Homo sapiens: one gene and its partners. The protein of the gene in region 1 purifies or fractionates together with the protein of each later gene. This does not show direct contact. Each region holds a gene or a part of one and is shown on either strand. Other genes may lie near its edges.

What was found.
Region 2: the proteins of VGLL4 (region 1) and ZYG11B purify together in Homo sapiens (affinity purification with mass spectrometry; one large-scale study listed by BioGRID and IntAct). This does not show direct contact.
Region 3: the proteins of VGLL4 (region 1) and CEACAM21 purify together in Homo sapiens (co-immunoprecipitation; one large-scale study listed by IntAct). This does not show direct contact.
Region 4: the proteins of VGLL4 (region 1) and PEF1 purify together in Homo sapiens (co-immunoprecipitation; one large-scale study listed by IntAct). This does not show direct contact.

Annotation. Positions count from the first base shown.
Region 1 is NC_000003.12:11,562,537-11,568,626, reverse strand, and holds part of VGLL4 (transcription cofactor vestigial-like protein 4), read left to right. Parts: exon of another isoform or gene 1-20; coding exon of another isoform or gene 21-22; intron 23-2,785; exon of another isoform or gene 2,786-3,607; coding exon 3,608-3,830; exon of another isoform or gene 3,831-4,341; coding exon of another isoform or gene 4,342-4,368; intron 4,369-6,090. UniProt on the Homo sapiens protein: May act as a specific coactivator for the mammalian TEFs.
Region 2 is NC_000001.11:52,816,062-52,822,151, forward strand, and holds part of ZYG11B (protein zyg-11 homolog B), read left to right. Parts: intron 1-470; coding exon 471-568; intron 569-5,377; coding exon 5,378-5,568; 3' UTR 5,569-6,090. UniProt on the Homo sapiens protein: Serves as substrate adapter subunit in the E3 ubiquitin ligase complex ZYG11B-CUL2-Elongin BC. Acts to target substrates bearing N-terminal degrons for proteasomal degradation with the first four residues of substrates being the key recognition elements.
Region 3 is NC_000019.10:41,578,281-41,584,370, forward strand, and holds part of CEACAM21 (cell adhesion molecule CEACAM21 isoform 1 precursor), read left to right. Parts: intron 1-678; exon of another isoform or gene 679-792; intron 793-989; coding exon of another isoform or gene 990-1,072; coding exon 1,073-1,348; exon of another isoform or gene 1,349-1,352; intron 1,353-6,066; coding exon 6,067-6,090.
Region 4 is NC_000001.11:31,633,337-31,639,426, reverse strand, and holds part of PEF1 (peflin), read left to right. Parts: intron 1-3,904; coding exon 3,905-4,205; intron 4,206-4,483; coding exon of another isoform or gene 4,484-4,581; exon of another isoform or gene 4,582-4,761; intron 4,762-4,934; exon of another isoform or gene 4,935-6,090. UniProt on the Homo sapiens protein: Calcium-binding protein that acts as an adapter that bridges unrelated proteins or stabilizes weak protein-protein complexes in response to calcium.

The DNA of each region.
Region 1 (6,090 bases):
ACCAGGAAAATGAGCTGGAAATGTGAGTAATGTATAATTTTACTAAAATTAACCAGCCAGTTCTCCAGGCCTTTTCTCGCTGTTTTCAGTGTCTTTGTCTGACCCATAGTGCCCACTGTGCTGTGTTCCACGGACTGTCTTTCCAGTTAGTGGGCCTGGAAGTCCCCTTCTCCCTGCTGCCCTGCGTAGGGTGGGCGCACAGTGGGGCTGTGGGAGCATAGATGGCAGATTTAGGTGCAGGGCTGCCCCGTCCTTACCTCTGCCCTGGCAGCTGGCGGCCCTGGCACCCCTTTCCTCTGTGATGTGGTCTCATAGTCATGCTTGGATTTCCTAAGGCGCAGCTGAGTCATCTGCGTGACTGTGCCGTGCCCCTAGGACATAAGGTGCGAGGGGTGGGCAGTGCCTTATGTACCACGACTTTGGCTTTGGACATGGGCAGACGCCTGACCTTTAGTCTGCTCCTCCATGCCACCCGGGGGTGTCTTTATCCTTGCCCGGATCCAGAGCTGTCACTTGGGAGCTGCAGCCCCTCCCGGGCCTTTCTGTCCCTGCTAGATTGTAAGCCCATGAGAAGGCAGGGCTGTAACCCTGCAGTTCTGGAACCTCCACAGAACAGGGACTTAACTAGCGCTGGTTGAGTAAACAGACGTCTAAATTCGGAGGCAGACTGTGTCTGAGGCTCTCCTGAATCTGGGACATGAGCCCCCAGGTCTATGCACTTCATGAAGTGGCCCGTGGAAGCATCACCTGGGGTGGAGAGAAGCCATTCACTCATGTTGTTAACAATAAAATTGTATCTTTATCTGAATTTAGAAGGGAGCGGGACACTGAAGATGAGGATGTGTGGTGACACTGATGAACTGAGTATTCAGGAACCAAGTCCCGTTTAGGTAGAAGCCAGCAGATCTCAGGACTGCTTGGCCTGACGTCCGTTCCGCGGAAGGTCTTCTGGTGACATCGGTGTCTGGGATCATAACCCTTGAGGCATTCATTGCAGAAACCTGTGCTGTCTTCTGAATCGCCACAGACAGATGACATTATGGACAGGCTGGTTTCAGTATTAAGGTTTTTAGTATTTTAACGTTTTGAAAATCGCCAGGATGTGTGTGGCGTGGATGGAACCTACTATCTAGACTCTGCCAGAACATTCTCTTCCATGATTGTCTTAATGGGCTGAACATTTAATCCTTAATTGCTTTTAAGATATTCTGTATCATCAGCCAGAAAATAAAGGGGAAGAAAAAAACCCCATAAACGAATACTGGGTCCTGTACAGCTAATCACCCTATAATCAATATACTCGGTTTAGGGCTGACAGGGTTCTCTTGGCGCTCACTGAGGGCTGCACTGCGCCGCTCTGATTGTTTTTGTTTGTGTGCTGTTTGTCCCCCATTTAGAGTCCTCTGGGTGGATCTTACTGTGACCACATGGTTACATGGGGACGCCGAGGCTCGGAACGCCTCGGGTCACTAAGCTGAGCGCGTGCCCCTGCTGGAGATGGCGCAGAATGACATCACAACATCACAGCCGAGGCTGCACTCAGGCCCCCTCTGGTGCTTCTCCTGCTCAGCCCTTAGCAGCTCACCGACTGGGCCGCAGGGTCCATCTAAAGGCTTGAATGCGCCTCCAGTTGACTCCTCAGCCCTCCAGCTCTCCATGATTCTGCCCACCCACAGTTCCACTCCACGATACCTGCCTTTCTTACACGGTCACCCATATGCTGCTTCTCTTCATTCACCCGTTAAGTCTCTGTGCACCCCTGGTAGCAAGCGTAATGAGACAGGAGGGACTCGACGCCCTCAGAGGCTGCCGTGTGTGAGGAGGGGCGGGTGCGTAGACGAAGAGATCATTGACGGTGGGGGATGGATTCTGTATTAAAGGTTTGCACGGGGCGCCTTGGGATTCTACACTGCAGCTGTGGTTGGCAGCGCAGGACGGGGAGGAGGGAGGCTAGAGCGGCACCGCGTGTACACAGCCACAGAGGCAGAGAGTGGCCGCATCTTATTTGAGGAATGGCAAGTAGATGGTTGGAACTACGGAACACAACATTTGGAGGCGTGAAGCCAGAGATGAGGACGGGAAGGTGGTCAGGCCCAGAGGCTACCAAGGCCCGTGCTGAGCTGCTAAAAACATTCACTAAGGGCTGGATGTGGTTGGATTTGCCTTATAAAGAGATTGCTCTGGAATGGATACAAGCAAAACACGAAATCTGAATAAGGTTGGTAGTTGTCTCATTGTCGATATCCTGGTTGTGATATTGTACTGTAGTTTTACAAGATGTCACCATCGCGGGAGTCAAGGTAAAGGGTGCATGGGATGGCCGTGTGTTGTTTCTTACAACTGAAGTTAATCTACAGTTTTAGAAAGGTACGCCTATCACATGCGTGTGTGTGTGTGGTGTGCGTGTGTGTAACATTCAGTGTGTGTGTAACATTCTGTGTGCATGCGTAACATTGTGTGTGTAACATTCATTGTGTGTGTAACATATTCAGCCAGTCCGGGACGGGGGCTGTGGCTGCTGCTTCACCAGGGCAGGCCTAGGCTTTTCTGCTAGTTAAGACAGGTGACTACTTGTAGACTCTGAAAATAATTTGTATTTCTTAAAATTCACTCAAATCATAATTCACCACCTTTTTCTTTAAATGACCAGCTCATGAGTTACGGAAAAAGGTTACTCTGTCAGCGGATAATATGGTGGATTGAAGGGGCAAGACCCAAGGCAGATGGAACTGTGGGACCCCTGGAATAAAGCAGGGAGGGTGGACCAGGGCTGGCCATGGCTTACCTGTGTGGGGTTGGTGTCTAATAGATGCAACACGTAACGCTGCCTTCAGACTAACACATCAGATGGAGGTGGTGCTGACTGTCTCACCTGGATTCCACGTGGCATCGCCTGGGTGCTCAGCACATGGCCAGGGCTAGTGATGGACCTTCTGGACGCAGGTCACTCCTGCTCGTGTGTCCTGGACGAGAGAGCTGCGCGCCGGCTCCCTACAGCACCCCGGGAACCCCAGAGCACGTGCCACCACATGTCAGCTGGGAGTCTGAGCTGATTATTCCACCACTCTTGAGTCTTGGGGTTCTGGTCTGGAAAGGGGATGGTGGCAGCATTGCCTGCTTAGTGCTGTTAGGAAGACGGGCTGAGCAGTACTGTGAGGAAGATGGGCTGAGCAGTGCTGTGGAGGCTTTGAATAGGGCCCTGCATGTAGGACGCAGCCAGTGACTCTGGATCGTTGTCAGCGTCCCCGTCCTGTCCAAATGGCAGGTCCTTATCGAACCAGCTTGGCCTCCAGCTCCCCAGGCTCCCAGGGAGTGGAGATTATTATAGAAGTGAACACAGAGTCAGGCAGAGGACGCCACTGAGTCGGGGGCTCCATCTTCTATGGAGCTGACTTTGGACTCCGCTGGCAGCAGCTTCTCCGGCACCCAGAGGCTTTGGTGTCCGGCTGACCCGGGCTGGCAACCGGCTCCTCATCGTGCTGCCCAGCCACACGACCTGAGCTTCAGGGTAAAAAATTAAATAAGCAACACGGAGTGCCTGGCGCACAGTCACTGTCCCCTTTGCCTTTGAGAAAACGCCCCCTGAATGCCCATTCCTCTTTTTCAGGAACAAGACTGCCAATGGAGACTGCCGCAGAGACCCCCGGGAGCGGAGCCGCAGCCCCATCGAGCGCGCTGTGGCCCCCACCATGAGCCTGCACGGCAGCCACCTGTACACCTCCCTCCCCAGCCTTGGCCTGGAGCAGCCCCTCGCACTGACCAAGAACAGCCTGGACGCCAGCAGGCCAGCCGGCCTCTCGCCCACACTGACCCCGGGGGAGCGGCAGCAGGTGGGCCTCTGTCTGGGAGGGTGGCGTGGGGAGTCCAGGGGCTGGGGGACTGGGCTGGATGGAGAGCCCCGAGCAGAGGACTCCGAGGGCGGTGGTGAGGGAGGGAGGTGGTGAGGGAGGGAGGTGGTGAGGGATGCCACCCTTCGCCTCTGTTGTGCACTTGGGACAAGGGACAGCAGAACAGGAGTCCTCTTCTGCTTTTACTTCCTGCCCAGACCTGCCCGGGCCTTGCCTCTTAGCACTCACGGCCTTGGGCAAGGTGAATGTCACTGGGGCTTCATCTCTTTCCTCTCCCAGTACAGGGGTGGTGTACTGAGGTGTTTCCTCCAGCAGTCTTCTGTGGCAGGCCTGATTCTCTTAGGATGAATGTAGTCATCCTCGGGTGGGGGGGTCCTACGTTTCTCCTTTAGACGGTCACGCGGATGAAGGGAAATGTCAGGTTGCTTTGCCTTGGGCTGGGGTCCTGCACAGTTGATGGTCACAGGGTTGTGAGCCCATGCTGGTCAGAAGCCTATGATTGGTACATAGGGATTTTTTTCTATGAAAGGAAAATAGGAAATTAAATGATTGCTTAATAAACACAGCTTGCTTGGTAGAAACAAATCTTTTTAAAAATGGGGTTCCTGGGGAAATATATGGGAGAAGGCAGCAGCATTGAGGAGGCTCAAAATTACTGCTTGAGCTCTCCGAATCTCCAGGGACTGCGACCTAATAGGTCCTTAGTCAGTAGTCAGCATTTGCTAAGACTGACAGAGAGGATGGTGCCGTGCCCCGAGGGGGTGCCTCCGGGCTCTGTGCATTCAGCTGCAAGAGCCTCTGTGTCCCTGTGGCCTCACCGGGGCTTCCCTCCAAGTGGCACTGCCTGGTGTCCGTGTCTGATGGGGTCTGTTGAAACTGTGGGTGGGGTAGGCCCTGGGAGTTGGGAGAGGTGGTTCTGGTGCTTGGGAATCCTGGTGAAGCTGAGAACAGTTGCCCATCTTGCCTCAGAGCCTGACATGGTAATCCTGTTTGTTTGATTCATCCATTTAACAAAATGGCACAGACCCCTGCTGTGTGCCAGGGGGTACCAGAAGCCAGTCAAGCAAGATGCAGTTTTTGTTCTCAGCACGCTCAGTTTTAGTCTGGAGGAGAGATCGCTGATGTGTCTGATGGAACCCGAGGCCAAGTTATCACTGCTGTTCATTTCAACGTTTTACGAGCGCTCACCATTTACCCAGCCCTCTGCAGAGCAGAGCTGTGGGCAGCCAGAGACGTGTGTGTGGACACTGTCACGGCCACAGGGAGCTCCCAGTCTAATTGGGGAAATGGACATGAGAAGAGAGGATTGTGCTGTTGGGCAGCAGCAGGGGCTGGAACAGAGGCGTGTGCGCAGTGCGACCCACAGGGACCCGCTCACTGCTCCCCGGGGTGGGCAGTGGACCTTTCTGCTTTGGGAAGCTCAACAGGCATTGTAATGCTGCCATGAGCCATGGCCTGAACCGTGCAGGCAGAACCTGGCTCTCTGGCCATTGCCACTGCTGTTGGGGAGTCCCTGAAGGACACGGGTATGGAGGGGAGGATTCAGCTGTAATCTCGGAGCACCCACATCCAGCCTCTGGCCCTTGATGACCTGGGGGACATAACTGTGAGCCTTACAAGCTATCTCTGCCCACATGGTCAGGGTGGGCCCTTGGCGGGCTTAGTGTGTTCTTGGATGATTTATTTCCTTGACTCTTCAGGGCTCTTGAGAATCTTGCAGTTGGTTTTCGGTCACAGTTGCTTTGCAAAAACTGAACTGCTGAACAGAGTGGCCTGACTCTCTTTACCCTGTCTCCCTCTCCCCAGCCTGGAATGGGCCTGGCTGCCCACGGCACACGTGGCAAGGGCCCCTCCTTGTGCCTTGGGGCTCCTGAGCAGCTTTCCTAGGAGGAAGAACCTCGACCCCCCAGCTATATCTTTATGGGATCCTGGCCTGGACTGAGGACAAAGCCAGGGGCCACGGGGTACCCCAAGCTGCCCATTTTCCTGGGAAGGGCACAGTGGCCCTGACCGGAGCTGTCATTTTCGGCTGGGGTTGGTCAGTCCTGCCCTCCTTGCCGTGGCTGCTGTCAGCACATGTCATTCATGTCGTAACCATTCGTGGGGCTCCTTCCTGCGGCAGCGTGGCGGGGCTGAGGCCATGCACACCAATCCGAGCTGGGCTCGGGCGCCCTGCTGAGGACACCAAGCAGCCACGTTGCCTGTGCTCCAGCAGCTCCGAGGTCTCTTCCTGGAAGTCTGT
Region 2 (6,090 bases), on another chromosome or scaffold:
TTTTTTTTGTTTGGTTCATAAATGCTGATGTTGCCAACATTTTTTTTATTTCTCCAACTTATGTTCCACCTATTTTTATTCAGACCAGTAGAAAATAGAAGGGATAATTATACATCTTTTTCATAGTGTTCTACTAGTTAGTTATCACCTAATTTCTCTATTTCTTAGTTTCCAAACCAAGATCTACTTATCTTCAAATGTGTATCTTTAAGACTAAAAAGTGCTTTTGGAAAAATTTTTTCTCTTTCACTACCATGTTCTAATCACCTTCCATCTTCTGTACTGAGTCATGTCTGAATGCAGTCTTCTCTGAAATGGTTAAGACAAAGAAATGATATTCTATAGCTCATTTATATTAGTCTAAATATAATAGGATAAAATTTTGAAAATGAAAAGTTTAGGAATCACTGCTTTAGGAAATTACGCTAAATATGGGATGTAACTTTGATTCTTTTCTTTTGAACCTTTAGGTCCTTTAATCCATTTTTCCCATTACTTGGCTGTTTCACAACACCAGGAGTTCAGCTATGGGCAGTTTGGGCCATGCAACATGTCTGCAGCAAGAATCGTATGTACCAAAAAAAAAGAACTGTGTTTTTTTTCTTTAAGTGAAATTCTCATTTCCCAGGAAAGATATTTCTAAATTGTGTATTAAAGTGATTTTTAAGAACACTGACTTAAAATGTAAGGCCATCTTAGGTTATAAACTTAAGGTATTCTTTTTTTTTTTTTTTTTTTTTTTTTGAGACGAAGTCTCGCTCTTGTTCCCCAGGCTGGAGTACAGTGGCGCGATCTCGGCTCACTGGAACCTCCGCCTCCTGGGTTCAAGCGATTCTCCTGCCTCAGCCTCCCGAGTAGCTGAGATATCAGGCACCTGCCACCATGCCCGGCTAATTTTTGTATTATTATTATTTTTTTTTAGTAGAGACGGGGTTTCACCATGTTGGCCAGGCTGGTCTCAAACTCCTGACCTCAGGTGATCCGCCCGCCTAAGCCTCCCAAAGTGCTGGGATTACAGGCATAAGCCACTGTGCCCGGCCAACTTAAGGTATTCTTTCAGAATGAGCATGGTGTAACTAGACACTGAATAATAGTGGTGAATGAGACACTGTTCTCACCTCAAGGAATTTAAAGATTAGGAGACTACAGTGAGTCCATTTGTTGAGTAAAAGGTCTTAAGTAGATCCACTGTTTATGGTACATTCCGGTGCCCAATTCTCATTCACCCAAAATTCTGTTGTTCAAGATGTCGCTGCCAGCACCCATGGTTTCTGAAGAAGCAAAGTGTTTGAATCAGGTTCTATATTATTCTTTGAAAGCTACGATGTAACTCTTATTTATTTATTTAGAGACAAGGTCTGTCTCTATCACTGGAGCTGGAGTGCAGTGGCATAGTAACAGCTCACTGCAACCTTGACGTCCAGGCTCAGATGATCCTCCTGCCTCAGCTTGTAGCTAGGACTACAAGTGCACGTCACCATACCTGGCTTTTTTTTGTATTTTTTGTAGAGATGGGGTTTCATCATGTTGGCCAGGCTGGTGTCAAACTCCTAGGCTCGAACGATCTGCCTGCCTCTTCCTCCCAAAGTGCTGGCATTACAGGCGTCAGCCATCAAGCGTGGCCTAATTATTTATTAATATAAACTCATTCCACAAATGATTTGACACAAGAAATACACAGAACCACTTTAATAGTAAAGTGTGTATATATATGTGTATATATATATATATATATATATATATATATATATATATTTTTTTTTTTTTTTTTTTTTTTTTTTTTTTTTTTTTTTTGAGATGGAGTCTCACTTTGTCACCCAGGCTGGAGTGCAGTGGTGCGATCTCGGCTCACCACACCCTCCACCTCCCAGGTTCAAGCGATTCTCTTGCCTCAACCTCCAGAGTAGCTGGGACTATAGGCCTGCACCACCACACCTGGCTAATTTTCGTATTTTTAGTAGAGACAGGGTTTCACCATTTTGGCTGGGCTGATCTTGAACCCCTGACCTCAGGTGATCCACCGACCTCGGCCTCCCAAAGTGCTGGGCTTACAGGTGTGAGCCACTGTGCCTGGCCTACTTTTAGTTTTAATTAGAAGTAAGGAAAAATAATTTTTCAAAAATTATAGGGGCCGGGCATAATGGCTCATCCCTATAATCCCAGCATTTTCTGAAGTTGAGGTGAGTGGATCGCTTGAGCCCGGGAGTTTGAGACCAGCCTGGGCAACATGGCGAAACCTAGTTTCTATAAAAGATGTAAAAGAAATTAGCCAGGTGTTGTGGTGTGCTCCTGTAGTCCCAGCTACTTGGGAGGCTGAGGTGGCAGCATCATCTGAGCCCAGAAAGCAAGGCTGCAGTGAGCTGTGATGGCACCATGCACTCTGGCCTGGGTGACAGAGTGAGACTCTGTCTCAAAAAGAAAAAAAAAAATTCTAGGATAGAGGGAAAATAGTCAAATGTAGACTTGTAGGCCATGCATAGGGATTTTTGTGGCTCTGCTGCAAGTAAAAAGCGACATGGTTCTCCATATAAGAGGGAAACATTCCATATCCTTGTCAGGGGAGATGGGGAGGGGAGAGAATTTTTTATGAGAAGTTAACTATGAATTAAATTTCTTCTATTGGACCTTAATAGGGGACATACTATAAAGGGCCTTATATAGGATATGTGAGAGTTGTTTTTACTAATATCCTTATAGCAGAAGTAGTAACATTTAGTGAGATTTTCGCTTGGGTTTTTTTTTTTTTTTTGGAGACGGAGTCTCACTCTGTTGCCCAGGCTGGAGTGCAGTGACACGATCTCAGCTCACCACAACCTACACCTCCCAGATTCAAGCATTTCTCCTACCTCAGCCTCCCGAGTAACTGGGACTACAGGAACACGCCACCATGCCCAGCTAATTTTTGTATTTTTAGTAGAGGCTGGGTTTCACAATTTTGGCCAGACTGGTCTCGAACTCACCCGCCTTGGCCTCTCAAAGTGCTGGGATTACAGGCATGAGCCACCGCACCCAGCTCCTTCTCTTGTATTGTTTGATGAAAACTCACTGCATACCACAAAAAGGCAATGCAGTAAAAGCTCTTCTGTGTCAGATAAAGAAGAATAATTCAATGAATGGGATGTGACCGAGAAAACTGCCTTGTACCCACCTGAACTCCCACCTGGAGGCTTATCCGGTCCTTCCTACTACATTACCCAGAAGCAGAGTTGTTCACTCATAAATCGAAAACTGCCTCTTTAGCTACATTAAACTGTCTCTGCCCTAAAGTCGTTTTCTTTTTACTGTACCCACAGGTTCTGAGGACTCCCAAATTTCTTAACAGTTGATCCCATCATATTCCCAGTCTCTAATCTATAGGTTCCTTTCCTCATAACTCAAGGAATGGACCTTTCACAGCTCAGTAGGAGAAAATAAAACATAATAAGTAAATAATAGTGCATTTTTGGCTGGGCATGGTGGCTCACGCCTGTATTCCCAGCACTTTCGGAGGCCAAGGCGGGTGGATCACGAAGTCAGGAGATCGAGACCATCCTGGCTAACATGGTGAAACCCCATCTCTACTAAAAATACAAAAAATTAGCTGTGGGTTGTGGCACACATCTGTACTCTCAGCTACTAGGGAGGCTGAGGCAGGAAAATCACTTGAACTGGGAGGTGGAGGTTACAGTGAGCCGAGATCGCACCACTGCACTTCAGCCTGGGCGACAGAGTGAGACTCTGTCTGAAAAAAAAATAATAATAATAATAATAATAGTGCATTTTCATATGAGTATTTATTTTTGTCACTACTTTTAGGTATTAGAGTTATTTAGGTTTTACTCTATGGAATGACAGCCCTGAATAATTTATTTTATTTTATTTTATTTTTTTTTTGAGACGGAGTCTTGCTGTCGTCCAGGCTAGAGTGCAGTGGCATGATCTCGGCTCACTGCAAGCTCCGCCTCCCACTTCACGCCATTCTCCTGCCTCAGCCTTCCAAGTAGCTGGGACTATAGGCGCCTGCCACCACGCCTGGCTAATTTTTTTGTATTTTTAGTAGAGACGGGGTTTCACCACGTTAGCCAGGATGGTCTCGATCTCCTGACCTCGTTATCTGCTCGCCTCGGCCTCCCAAACTGCTGGGATTACAGGTGTGAGCCACCACGCCCAGCCCCTGAATAATTTATTCTAAAATGCACTGTAATTTGGGGAATATTAGAATATTTTGTCTCCAACTCAGATAGTTTAGGTTCCTACCTTGTGGGCTTATTTTGTTTATATTTAAATGGAATTCACTTCTATTTGTATTAAAATGTTTTAATGTGGCTGGGTGTGGTGGCTCACACCTGTAACCCCAGCACTTTGGGAGGCTGAGGCAGGCAGATCACTTAAGGTCAGGAGTTTGAGACTGGACTGGCCAGCGTGGTAAAACCCCACCTCTACCAAAAATACAAAAATTTAGCCAGGTGTGGTGGCTGGTGCCTATAGTCCCAGCTACCCAGGAGACTGAGGAAGGAGAATTGCTTGAACCCGGGAGGCAGAGGTTGCAGTGAGCCAAAATTGTGCCATTGGACTCCAGCCTGGGCAACACAGCAAGCTGCAGTGAGCCATGATCACACCACTGGGCATGAGCCATGATCACCCCAGCCTGGGCAACAGAATGAGACTGTCTTTAAAAAAAAAAAAAAAAAAAAAAAGGCTAATAAAATATTTCAAAAATTTAAAAATTGTATGTGCAGTATGAGTGCCATTAAGTTTTTAAAAAGCATAGTAAATGCAGCCTGGCATTATGGCTCATGCCTGTAATTCTAGTACTTTGGGAGGCTGAGGCGGGAGGATTGCTTGAGGGCAGGAGTTTGAGACCAGCCTAGGCAACATGGTAAAACCCCATCTCTACTAAAAATAAAAAAATTAGCCAGGGGTGGTGGCATGTGCCTGTATTTCCAGGCTGAGGCACAAGAATCGCTTGAACCCAGGAGGCGGAGGCTGCAGTGAGTCGAGATTGCGCCACTGTACTCTGGCCTGGGCAACAGGGCAAGACTCTGTCTAAAAAAAAAAAAAAAGCATAGGAAATGCATAAAAATATAACAACACTTACCTGTGATTTTGGGTCAAAGATAAGGTAGTTATGATTGTTTTTATTTTTTTAATACAGGTTGTACATGTCTTGAGGTTAGAAAAATCAAGCTAGCTATTTATTGATTGAATGTGTAGGCCTTGCACTGTAGACGTAACATCAGTATAGAGGTTATTTATCAAGCTGTAGCATGTTAGTGATCAATAACAAAACAGCTAAAAAAAAATGGCTCCTAGAAGTCATTTTTTTGTGGAATAATTTTCAAGTGTTTTAAGAAAAGCTATTTCTCCTGTTTTGTGTGTGTTTTTTTTTCTTTTTCAGCTTCAAGGTATTGCAGCATGCTGATTGAAGAAGGAGGATTGCAGCATTTATACAACATCAAAGATCATGAACATACTGATCCCCATGTCCAACAGATTGCTGTGGCCATTCTGGATAGCTTAGAAAAACACATTGTGCGCCATGGGAGGCCACCTCCCTGTAAAAAACAGCCCCAAGCCAGACTAAATTGATAGCCATAAGTATTGGATAGTTGAATCACAGGAATCCTTTTTGTGATTGGTCCATTTGGAATATCTTACCCTCCCTGATGTTTTGGGGGTTTCTATGACAAGAGTCATAAAATCAGTTTGGGATTGATAATGTGTAGTACTGCCCATGTGAACAGTCTCTAATTTGTCTTGTGATTTTAAACTTATGAGTCAAGAAGGGTCTCTTCCTTTATCATTGCCTTTTAGGAAATTTTCCACATCTTTCAGTGTTTGAACTTACTTGTGCTTGAGATTCTACAGTTTTATGGTAAAGTTTGCACGAACCCTTAGGCCAGACTTTTCTGATCTCAGAGTCCCTTCCAATCAATTTGCAGCTTCACATAAGCTGTTGACCTGATTTCTGACACTGCTTCAGTTGTAAATTTTATACTGCTTCTGTATAAAATGCCTTTCTTCTCTATCTGTGTATATTTTATAAGATGTCCTTCTTAGTGTGAAAGAAGGGAAATGTGGATCATCTTGTGGAAGCTAATCACTGGCAGG
Region 3 (6,090 bases), on another chromosome or scaffold:
CAGGAATCAGGCCCAGAGAACTCTTTTTTTTTTTTTTTGGAGTAAAATAATAATAGATGATGTTTATTTGGAGCTATTCTGTGCCAAGCTTTAGGTCAGGTAATTGTAAATATTTTAATGTTAATTTACAGAGAGGATGGCAAGCCAGGGACCATTGACATGTACCCCATTTTATTAAAGAGAAATTGCATCAGCATCACACAGGCTGTCAGTGCTCAACGTCACACCACCGTGTGTCTGCAGCCCAGAATCTGGTCGTGGCCACCACCGTGGGGCATCTGTGGACCCCAGGACCAGATGTTGGTTCAGCTCCTTTCTTCTTGGGCATCCTCAGCTCAGAGAGGGAGATTCTGGTCTGAGGAATGACGGGCAAATGGAGAATTAGTCAGTTTTTACTTAGAACGAAATCACCTGTCTCAACTATCAGACTCAATGCCAGGATTGTCCAAGCCTCTCCCATCAGATCCACATTCCTTCCCTCACTGGACGTGAAATCATGAATTTCTTGATTTGTTGATGTCACTCCCATGGGAGGATGAAGGAAAGGACTCAGCTTTCTCTTCCCACTACACCCTGTACCTGCACAAGGCCCAACTGAGACACACACTCAGTAGTTCTCTGATGAAGGAGGGAGGGAATTAATGAAAAAAGAAAGGAATAATCATAACCTCTTTACAGACTGGGTCCTGGATGTAGGATCCTAGGAGGAGCTGGCCACACCTCTTCCTTGTCCCTTAGGGGCTGAGACCCATGTTCCATTTCTCTGACTGCCTGCTCCTAAAGCCACCCCAGGTATTGCATCTCATGTGACTCTGGGGCCGCTCATCTGTGGGAGGGTTTTCAGGGCTCCCTGGTCCTGGTCTGAGGCAGCTGGGTCCTCCTGGTCCCTGGGGTCTCTGAGGTCACTGTAGTCCCTACTGCTCGCTGCTATGGGTGTCTCTGGTTCTCTCTGCTCCTCCCTGTCCTTCATCTTTCTCCTTTATTCACAGGAGAATGTTCTAAATTTGACTCTGAGATCTCTGAGGATGCAGCATGGCCCCAAGACACTTTCTGTTGGTCACTCTATCCACAGAGTCAGTGGCTCAGCCCTCCATCCAAGCCAGCAGCACCACAGTCACAGAGAAGGGCTCCGTGGTCCTGACCTGCCACACAAATAACACTGGAACCTCTTTCCAGTGGATTTTCAACAACCAGCGTCTGCAGGTCACGAAGAGGATGAAGCTGTCCTGGTTTAACCATGTGCTCACCATAGACCCCATCAGGCAGGAGGACGCTGGGGAGTATCAGTGTGAGGTCTCCAACCCAGTCAGCTCCAACAGGAGCGACCCCCTCAAGCTGACTGTAAAATGTGAGTGACCCTCGGCCCCTCTCACTCCTTTCCTTGTATATTTTCCTAGGAGGGAGGGGGGGTGTAAAATGATACACGGAATGAGAAGGATGAGATTCCTTCAGAGCCTGGGGAGCAATGTGGGTAAGAACTCAGGGATTAGACTCATCCAGTTATCATCCTGGTTACAATAGGTACCAGGTATTTGACCTTGGGCAAGACACTCAACCTCCTGGGCCTCAGTTTCCTCATCTGTAGAATTGTTACAAACACCTGGACCTCAGGGTGGTTGTGAGGATATTTATTCAGAGATTAATGCGATTAAAGCCCTTAACAAGGTCATGCACAGAGCCAGGGCTCAATCAGTGCTATCAATATCGACTGGTATTATTTTTATGAACTTTGTTGTTATTAGCTGTTAAGTTGAGCAGACTTTGGTTACATTTTTGTTGTATCACTTTCACTTACCAGTTCTGTAATCTTAATTGAAGTACTGAATCTTAATTGAAGTACTGAATCTTAATTGAAGTACTGAATTGAAGTACTTCAATCTTAATTGAAGTACTGAAACTATAAGTTTCAGATTCTAAATTGGCAGATGGGATTCCACCCTGTTTGGAAAAACTCAAACTGTGTTTTTCCTCTGCTCTCACTCCACAATAACAATCATCAACACAGACACACTTCTGTGACCAAATGTGATGGGGGGGGGTTTCTCCCACACACCCAGCAGCCAATCAGTTCTGCACCGTACATCAGCTAGGTGTCCTCCAATTCCATCCTGACACTATCTACCTGGACATATCAGCAGAGGGCTCAGTCCCACAAAATTGCCACCACCTTCCCACCAGTCACAAGTCTGGGCCTCCAGAGCTTCTTATGACTGGCTTCACATTGAGGTTTCCATGACTCCCTGTTTGGGTTGGATTAGTTTGCTCAAACAGCTCTCAGGACTCAGGGAAACACATACTTAGGCTTACCGGTTTGTAATAAAGGACTTTACAAAGGATGCAGATGAAGAGATGCACAGAGCATGGCATGTGGGAAGGGGTGTGGAGCTTCCATGCCCTCCCCAGATGCACCACACTCCAGAAACTTCCATGGGTTCAGCTCTTCAAACCCAGTCCTTTTGGGGTTCATGACATAGATATGATTGATTTAATCATTGGCCATTAATTGATTCAATCATTGGCCATTAATTGATTCATTGGTCATTGGTGATTAATTCAAACTCCAGGTCCCTCCCCAGGGATTAGGGGTGAGGCTGAAAGTCCCAACCCTCTAATCCTACCTGGGTCAGTGACCAGCCTCATTCTGAAGTTGCCTAGGGGCTGCCAGTCATCAGTCAATTATTAGCTTGAAAAAGACATCACTTTGAAGATTCTAAGGACTTTAGAGTCACATACCAGAAAATGGGTGTATTAGTCTGTTGGGAGCAAGCCCCCCAAAATCTGGCCATAAACTGGCCCCAAAACTGGTCATAAACAAAATCTCTGCAGCACTGTAACATGTTCATAATGGCCCTAATGCCCAAGCTGGAAGGTTATGGGTTTACAGGAATGAGGGCAAGGAATACCTGTCCCACCCAGGGTGGAAAACCGCTTAAAGGCGTTCTTAAGCCACAAACAATAGCATGAGCAATCTGCATCTTAAGGGCGTGTTCCTGTTGCAGTTAACTAGCCCAACCTATTCCTTTAATTCGGCCCATCCCTTGGTTTCCCATAAGGGATACTTTTAGTTAATTTAATATCTATAGAAACAATGCTAATGACTGGTTTGCTGTTATTAAATATGTGGGTAAATCTCTGTTTGGGGCTCTCAGCTCTGAAGCCTGTGAGAACCCTGATTTCCCACTTCACACCTCTATATTTCTATGTGTGTCTTTAATTCCTCTAGCACTGCTGGGTTAGGATCTCCGCGACCGAGCTGGTCTTGGCTGCTGATAAAGACATACCTGAGACTGGGTAATTTTTTTAAAAATGAGGTTTAATTGACTTACAGTTCCACATAGCTGGGGAGGCCTTGAAATCATGGCAGAAGGCAAAAGGCATGTCTTACATGGCGGCAGGCAAGAGGGCATGTGTAGAGGAACTCCCCTTTCTAAAACCATCAGATCTTGTGAGACTTATTCACTATCATGAGAACAGCATGGGAAGAATCCACCCCCATGATTCAATTACCTCCCACTGGGTCCTTCCCCCAACACGTGGGGATTATTAAAATTCAAGGTGATATTTGGGTGAAGAAGAGCCAAACCATGTCATTCCACCCGACCCCTCCCAAATCTCATGTCCTCACATTTCAAAACTAATCATGCCTTCCAACAGTTCCCCAAAGTCTTAACTCATTCCAGCATTAACCCAAAAGTCCAAGTCCAAAGTTTCATCTGAGACAAGGCAAGTCCCTTCCACCTATAAGCCTGTAAAATCAAAAGCAAGCTTAGTTACTTCCTAGATATAATGGGTGTACAGGCACTGGGTAAATACAACCATTCCAAATGGGAGAAACTGGCCAAAACAAAGGGGCTACAGGCCCCATGCAAGCCCAAAATCCAGCAGGGCAGCCAAATCTTAATGCTCTGAAATGATCTCCTTTGTATCCATGTCTCACATCCAGGTCACACTGATGCAAGAGCTGAACTCCCATAGCCTTGGGCTCCACCCCTGTGGCTTTGCAGGGTACAGCCCCACTCCTGGCTGCTTTCATAGGCTGGCGTTGAGTGTCTGCAGCTTTTCTAGGTGCATGGTGCAAGCTGTTAGTGGATCTACCATTCTGGGGTCTGGAGGATTGTGGTCTTCTTCTCACAGCTCCATTAGGCAGTGCCCCAGTAGGGACTCTGTGTCGGGGTTCCAACCCCACATTTCCCTTCAACACTTCCCTAGCAGAGGTTCTCCATGAGGGCTCTGCTTCTGCAGCAAACTTCCACCTGGACATCCAAGCATTTTCATACATCCTCTGAAATCTAGGCGAAGGTTCCCAAACCTCAATCCTTGACTTCTGTGCACCTGCAGGCTCAACACCACATGGAAGCTGCCAAGGTTTGGGGCTTGCACCCTCTGAAGCCATGGCCCCAGCTGTACCTTGGCCCTCTTTAGCCATGGCTGGAGTGGCTGGGATGCAGGGCACCAAGTCTCTAGGCCGCACACAGCAGGGGAGCCCTGGGCCTGGCCCAGGAAACATTTTTTCCTCCTAGGCCTCCAGTCCTGTGATGGAAGGGGCTTCCAGGAAGGTCTCTGACATGCCCTGGAGACATTTTTGCCATTGTCTTGGGGATTAACATTTTGCTCTTCATTGTTTATGCACATTTCTGCAGCTGGCTTGAATTTCTCCTCAGAAAATGGATTTTTCTTTTCTATTGCATCATCAGGCTGCAAATTTTCCAAACTTTTATGCTCTGCTTCCCTTTTAAACATAAGTTCCAATTCCAAACCATACCTTTGTAAATACATAAAACTGAGTGTTTTTAACAGTACCCAAGTCACATCTTGAACACTTTGCTGCTTAGAATTTTTTTTCCACCAGTTGCCCTAAATCATTTCCCTCAAGTTCAAAGTTCTGCAGATCTCTAGGGCAGGGGCAAAATACCACCAATCTCTTTTCTAGAGTATAACAAGAGTCACCTTTGTTCCAGTTCCCAAGAAGTTCCTCATCTCTGTCTGAGACCACCTCAGCTTGGACTTTATTGTCCATATCACTATCAGCGTTTTAATCAAAACCATTCAACAAGTCTCTAGGAAGTTTCAAACTTTTTTCCTGTGTCTTCTTCTGAGCCCTCCAAACTGTTCCAACCTCTGCCTGTTACCCAGTTCCAAAGTCACTTCCACATTTTCAGGTATCTTTATAGCAGCACTCCACTAGCTGGTACCAATTTACTGTATTAGTCCATTCTCACACTGCTAATGAAGACATACCTGAGACTTGGTAATGTATGAAGAAAGAGGTTTAATTGATTCACAATTCCACATGGCTGGAGAGGTCTCACAATCATGATGGAAGGTGAAAGGCATGTCTTACATGGCAGCAGGCAAGAGGACATGTGTAGGGAAGCTTCCCTTTATGAAACCATCTGATCTCCTGAGACTTATTCACTATCACAAGAACAGGATGGAAAAAACCCACCCTCATGATTCAATTACCTCCCACAAGGTCCCTCCCATAACACATGGGGATTATTACAATTCAAGGTGAGATTTGGGTGGGGATACAGAGCCTAACCATATCAATGGTGATGAACACCAAATACGTATTTCACAATATCACATACCCTTCTCCCTCAAGGCAATGGGAGGGTGAGAAAAGCTGCAGGTAGATTGATTCCCACTGTGCCTTCCATGTGGAAGGCCCCTGAAAACAGTCAATGAACATCATCCCTGCTCATCAGCATTGAGTTGGCAGCAAGGGCCTGCCCTTTACGACTGCCATGGGATGGAAAAAAAGAAACAGGGGGAAGAGGAGTGATGTGAGAGGAAGGAGGGACTAAAAAACACAGGAGCAGGATGAGGTGCAGGCTTCCTGTGGGAGAATGTAGGAGTTGATGCATCCCAGTAATTCAAGCCTAAGACACAGAAAATGGTGCAACCACGGAGAGCAAGGGAGCCAGCTATGAGGACAGCACAACAGACCACACTCAGGCTCCATGGCATTTCCTTCCTCCCTGACCATGCCCCTGCCCTGCAAGGCCCCTCATGGTTCCCCCTGGAACAGATTTGGACCTCATCCCCTTTGCCTTCTTCTTTCAGCAGATGACAACACTCTAGGCATCC
Region 4 (6,090 bases), on another chromosome or scaffold:
GCCCTGGGGTGCCATGATGAGTGAGGCGCAGTGTCTGCCCCTGGGGAGCTTACTGTTGGGTGGGGGAGATGCTAGACAGAAACTACTCTTAGACACTGATACCTCACGGCTAACTGAAATGCAGGGGGAGAGGTGCTTGGTCAACGAGTGTATAGAGGGCCTGCCTTTCTGGGTTCACACTGCATTCTTGGCTCTGCGGTTTAACTCATTCCCTGAATGCACTATGCTCACTCTTAAGTCTGTGCGTTTGTCTTTCTTCTCTCTTCTGTCTGGAGTGTCCTTCCCTGCCTGCCTTTTGGAAAATGTCTATGCATCCTTCAAGGACCATTTCCAATATCACTGCCACTTCCTCCAGGAAGCTTTCCTTGACCCACTTCATACATTGTTCATTTATTCATTCTGCAAACAGCACAAATTCCTCCATCTAAGCTTCCTTGATAGCACATAAGTAGATTTTTCTGATGGCACTGATCAGATTGTATCACAATTATCTGTGGGCCCCTTAAGGGCAGGACTTCATTTACTTGTGTCCTCAGATCTACTACAGAGCCTAGTACAATATTGTCACTCTGAAAATGCGTGCTGAATGAAGTCCTTTAACAGCTCCGTGGCTTAGTTTCTTCATCTGTAAAAGAGGGCAACTAACATCTTCCTTTTTTCTGTTAGGAGGCCATTGGCAAGATTCTGCCTGTAGTGTTTGTGTTTGTGAAAGTACTTTGTAAACTACAGAGGAGGTCTTCAAATGCAGGACAGAAAGGAAAGGGTTTAATTGCTGCCAGACTACAATAGCCAGAAGGGCAGGAGACCTGCCTGGCAGCACCTGCTTTGTTGGCCTGGGGATGTTTCCTAGGTGGTTTATAGGTGGTTTCCTAGGTGGGTTTTCCTAGGTGCCAGGTGCGGTTTATAGCTTTGCTCACAGGGCTTATAGTGGGGCAGCTACTTCTGGCTTCGTGTCTGGCCTGTTCTTTGGGTGTGCCCAGATTCTGCAGAGTTCCCACTCCCTTTCCATCCTATGCTGGAATCCTGAGCCCTATTGCTTAATGAAGGAGTGTTGTAGCAGGAGGCAGGGGGAGTCATTGGGTGCAAGGGAGTGGTCCAGCCTTGTCTCTTCCTCCAGCTCACAGCATTACTTGGGCAAGTCCCTCCCTCCCTCCCCCATCTGTAAAATGGGGGTTAGGTTAAGTGACTTGTCTTCTGGGTATTTCTCTTGTCACACCTCTCCAACCCCTTGGGAATCCTGTTCGTTCTCTAAGTCCTAGCTCAAATGCCACTCTCATGGAAACACTCCCTGATTTTACCCTCCTTCCTTTGCAGTCCTATGGCACATGACTTATGTCTCCATTTCAAACACCTGTTTTCCTTATGCTGTTTTGTTAGACGTTACACAGTGTCTACATGTTAAGTCTTGTTAACTGTGAGTGCCTTCAGATTGCTTCACTCTCCTTTATACCCCACCCCGCACAGTTCACCTGGCCCAGGACTTTGCTGATAACAGTAATTAATATAGCAATAGCAGCTATGACTTACTGATCATTTGCTTTATGCCAGGCACTGTTGTAAAAACTATTTTTCTTATGTGAGTGGTTTTCAGACTGTCTTTTCAGTCACTGTGAGGGGTTTTCAGAGCCCCCTCAGAATGTAGCAAGGGAGGGGGTTCCATATTGTAGGGGCTCTGGAGCTCCCACCTTACTTCAGCCAGAGCAACTTTCTTGTATTTGTTTTATTTATTTTATCAAAGGATTCTTTCTTTCTCTCTCTCTTTTTTTTTTTTTTTTTTTTTTTTGGAGACAGGGTCTCCCTCTGTTACTCAGGCTGGAGTGTTGTGGCACAATCACAGCTCACTGCAGCCTCCAACTTAGGCTCAAGTGATCCTTCCGCTTTAGCCTCCCGAGTAGCAGGGACTACATGTGTACCACCATGCCCGGCTGATTTTTAAAAATTTTTTGTAGAGGTGGGATCTTACTATGTTGCCCAGGTTGGTTATCAAAGGATTCTTTAGCTAAAAATTAAACTGACAGAATTTTGCTGCATTTATTTTTTATAATCTGCAGAACAGTCCAGTGAGGAAGGAATTGTTCTATTTGTGAGGAAGCAGGCTCAGAGAGATGAAGCCACGGGCCCACAGTCATGAACTTAGCTGATGGGAGCAGAGTTTTAAATTGAGATCTGTGTGAGCCATTCTTGTCTGTGAAGGAGTCTTGCTAGTAGCTATGACAGCTTCTAGGGTAGAAAAGCTCCCAAGGATTGCTGAGTGGGTGACAGGGCCTGCTTCCTGCCCTCCCCACAAAAAAACCTCATGAATTTGGCCTTAGCCTTAAGAGTAATTATTTCAAGCTATCAAACACAATAAAAAGAGAAAGCCCAGGCTCTCAGTGGCTTGGCCACTGGTGCACTTACAGGTTGATCTAGAACGTATCTAGATGGTGCCGTTCTCGGAGCTGGGCCTAGCTGCTGTCTGTGCCCTTGAGCTCAGCTTGTCTGCAGATGTGTTGGGGCTGTGCTCTGCTGGGTCCTGTGCTAGCCATTTAGGGAGATGGAGCGGAACACTCCGAGGGCTACTGGTGTGGGAAGATGGATGAGAGAGGGAATGCCCCCATGTATGCTCTAATGCACAAATGCCCTGGACATAGAGCCAAGAGACCCAGGTTCTGGTCCCAGCCCCTCCACACAGCCTGTGTGTGACTTTCCTGGACTTGAGTCTTGTCCTCTGTAGGAGGCTATTATTAATAGTGTTTATTGAGTGCTTAATTTGTGTCAGGCCCAATGTCAAAGGGCTTCACATAGCTGGCCTCATTTCATTCACAAACTAACCTGAGAGGTAGCTATTATTATTCCCATTTTATAGCAGAAGATGTTGAGGCTTAGAGAGGATAAGTCAGTCCAGTTAGTAAATGGCAGAACCTGAACTTGAACTCTTGAACTGGTTGTTTTTTGTTTGTTTGTTTGTTTTGAGATCGGATCTTACTCTGTCACCCAGGCTGGAGTACAGTTGTGTGATCATGGCTCACTGTAGCCTCGACCTCCCCAGGCTCAGGTGATCCTCCCACCTTAGCCTCCTGAGTCATTGGGACTATAGGTGTGCGCCACCACACCTGGCTAATTTTTGTATTTTTTAAATAGAGATGTAGTTTTTCTATGTTGCCCAGGTTTTTAGTAGAGATGTTGTTTTTCTGTGTTGCCCAGGCTGGTCTCTAACTCCTGGGCTCAAGCAGTCTGCCCGCCTCAGACTTCCAAAGTGCTGTGATTACACAGCTGTGAGCCACCACGCCTAGCTGTTGAACTGGCCTTTGAAAGCATTGTATCGTATTGCCTTAGGAATAGGGTCTCCCCTGCCTGCCTCACAGAGTTGTGAGTGAGGATAGGGAAATGTTTTTACATCAGGGTAAGGAAGACATGCTGTGGATGAATCCATGCTATAGCTATGTCATTTGTGACTGATGAGGGTCAGGGGTGTGTGTTAGAGACTGCGTTTGCCCCATGAGTTCTGCAGATAGAGATGGGAGTACCACAGGATGGGCATTTGGAATTCTGTTTGATTCATTTGCCTATTCATTCATACAGGAAATATTTACCAAGTATCCATTCTACACTGGGAGCTGGGGATAAAGTGACAAACCAGACAGGATCCTAGCCCTTGTGGAGCCCCTTGATGTGCAGGAAAGGAGAGTTAGGAAAGGAGGATTTCAACCCTGACTCTGCAGGTCATTGGCGGGGTGACTTTGGGTAACTCGTTGCTCCTCTGGAAGCCTCAGTTTGCCCATCTGAGCAGTGAGATCATAATTCCAACCCTACCTATAGGATCAGTTGAAAGGATGGTGGTGGAAGTGCTTTATGGTTGTAAAGTGCCATACTCTGCCTAGTTTCTGGCCTCATCATTCTGACTGATATCTTGCTCTTCCTGCAGGGCTGCCCAGGAGCTGCAGGACAAGCACCAGGAGCCCCTCCGGGTAGCTACTACCCTGGACCCCCCAATAGTGGAGGGCAGTATGGTAGTGGGCTACCCCCTGGTGGTGGTTATGGGGGTCCTGCCCCTGGAGGGCCTTATGGACCACCAGCTGGTGGAGGGCCCTATGGACACCCCAATCCTGGGATGTTCCCCTCTGGAACTCCAGGAGGACCATATGGCGGTGCAGCTCCCGGGGGCCCCTATGGTCAGCCACCTCCAAGTTCCTACGGTGCCCAGCAGCCTGGGCTTTATGGACAGGGTAAGTAGTAATCTTGGACTCCGGGTACCTCTGACGTGGTTCTGAGTTATCCATGGCCAGCCTTTGTCCTTCCTGTGGGTGTGCAGGCAGCCTGGTCTCTGGCACCTTAGCATCTTGCTTCCAGCTTCAGTGTGTATCCTCAAAATGATAAGTTTGTCAGCTAGTTTTGTTGCAAGCATTTATTTGTATTGCTTGCTCATGCTTACTTTCTTTTGCTTACATGTCAGCAGCTGTTAGCTGGCTGTTGAGTTTCTGTTCCCTGTGTCTTTTTCATTCAGGGATACATGCTGAAGGAGCAGCTCCTGTTTGGGATATGTTATCTTTGTGGCAGAGAGAAGGAGCAGGAGAGCTAGCAAGAATGCACAATGCCTCTTAAAGCTTCTCTGAAGTACTGTATGTCTTGCCCACTTGCATTCTTTTGGCCAGAGCACCCCCTGATCAAGACTGACATCAGTAGGATGGGAAAGGATGCCCCTCTGCAAGCCACCAGGCAGTGGGAGAGGATGTACAATGCTCTTATAGGGAAGGGGAGATTAGCAAGTAATCTAATAATAGATTATTGAACTGGCCTTTTAAACCATTGTACCATATTAGTACAATGTCTGTGGGTGTGCAGACTGTGTCTCCTGGCTAGAGATTATTAGCCAGGAGACGATAATGTAGCCTACCATGGGGAGAAACTCAGTTTAAATATCCGTTTCTCTGTGAAAATATCTCAGAAGACACACATTCCAGGCTCTTTGCTGAGGATTTTATTTTGCTGTTATCTCATTTAATCATCACAACAATTCTGGGGAAATGGGTTCATTTTAGAAATGTGAAAATCATTACTCAGAAAATTGTACATTTTGCCTAAAGTCACACAAGCTAGTAAGGATCAGATCCAGGGTTTGAATCCAGGTCTGCTTTGATTCCAAAGCCTGAGCCCTTCTATACAAACTACACAGTTCAAACATGTCACAGAATCTCTCCTGCCCTGGGGCTGTGGCCCTTGCTCCCCTATGACACCGATGTTTTAGGAAGATGGCTAGAACCTGCCCGGATTTTTCCAAGGAAGTCAGACTAATCCCTAAGTCAGGCATACCTTTTTCCCTCTGTCCTTACTGGGCTTTGGTACTAGGCAGTGGTTTCTGTCCTCCACAACTGCCCATGGCTGTCTTTGTGTGAAGGGACCCCGATTGTGGCCAGTTAACTCAGTGTCCTAAGGTAGACAGACTTACCAGCTTCTACACTGTTTTTTTTGGGTTTTTTTGTTTTTTTTTTTTTGAGATGGAGTTTCGCTTTTGTTGCCCAGGCTGGAGTGCAATGGCGTGATCTTGGCTCACCACAACCTCCACCTCCCGGGTTCAAGCGATTCTCCTGCTTCAGCCTCCCCAGTAGCTGGGATTACAGGCATGTGCCACCATGCCCGGCTAATTTTCTATTTTTAGTAGAGACGGGGTTTCTCCATGTTGGTCAAGCTGGTCTCAAACTCCCGACCTCAGGTGATCCGCCTGCCTCGGCTTCCCAAAGTGCTGGGATTACAGTCGTGAGCCACTGTGCCTGGCCACTTCTACACTTTTATCTACCACCCATTCCCCCATCTCGCAGTTTACCTTTTCCAGAGAATTCTTGAAATGCTACAGGGGTACAGGTCCCCGTTCCTTAAAAACATAAAATCAATTAAGAGTAGTGTCTGGAACACTATACGAGAACTCCAGAGGACTCATGGAATAGAAATCAACTGCAAATACTCATGAATCTTCACTGAAGGTCCTCTTCCATCAGAGTAAGAATGTCAGCTTGATGGAAGACAGGGAAGGTGAATTTGTGAAGCTTCGTGTGTAGGAGAAACCTGTAGCCAGGAAGTTACTGAGGCTGGCCCTTCCTGGCATTTCTGTTGATG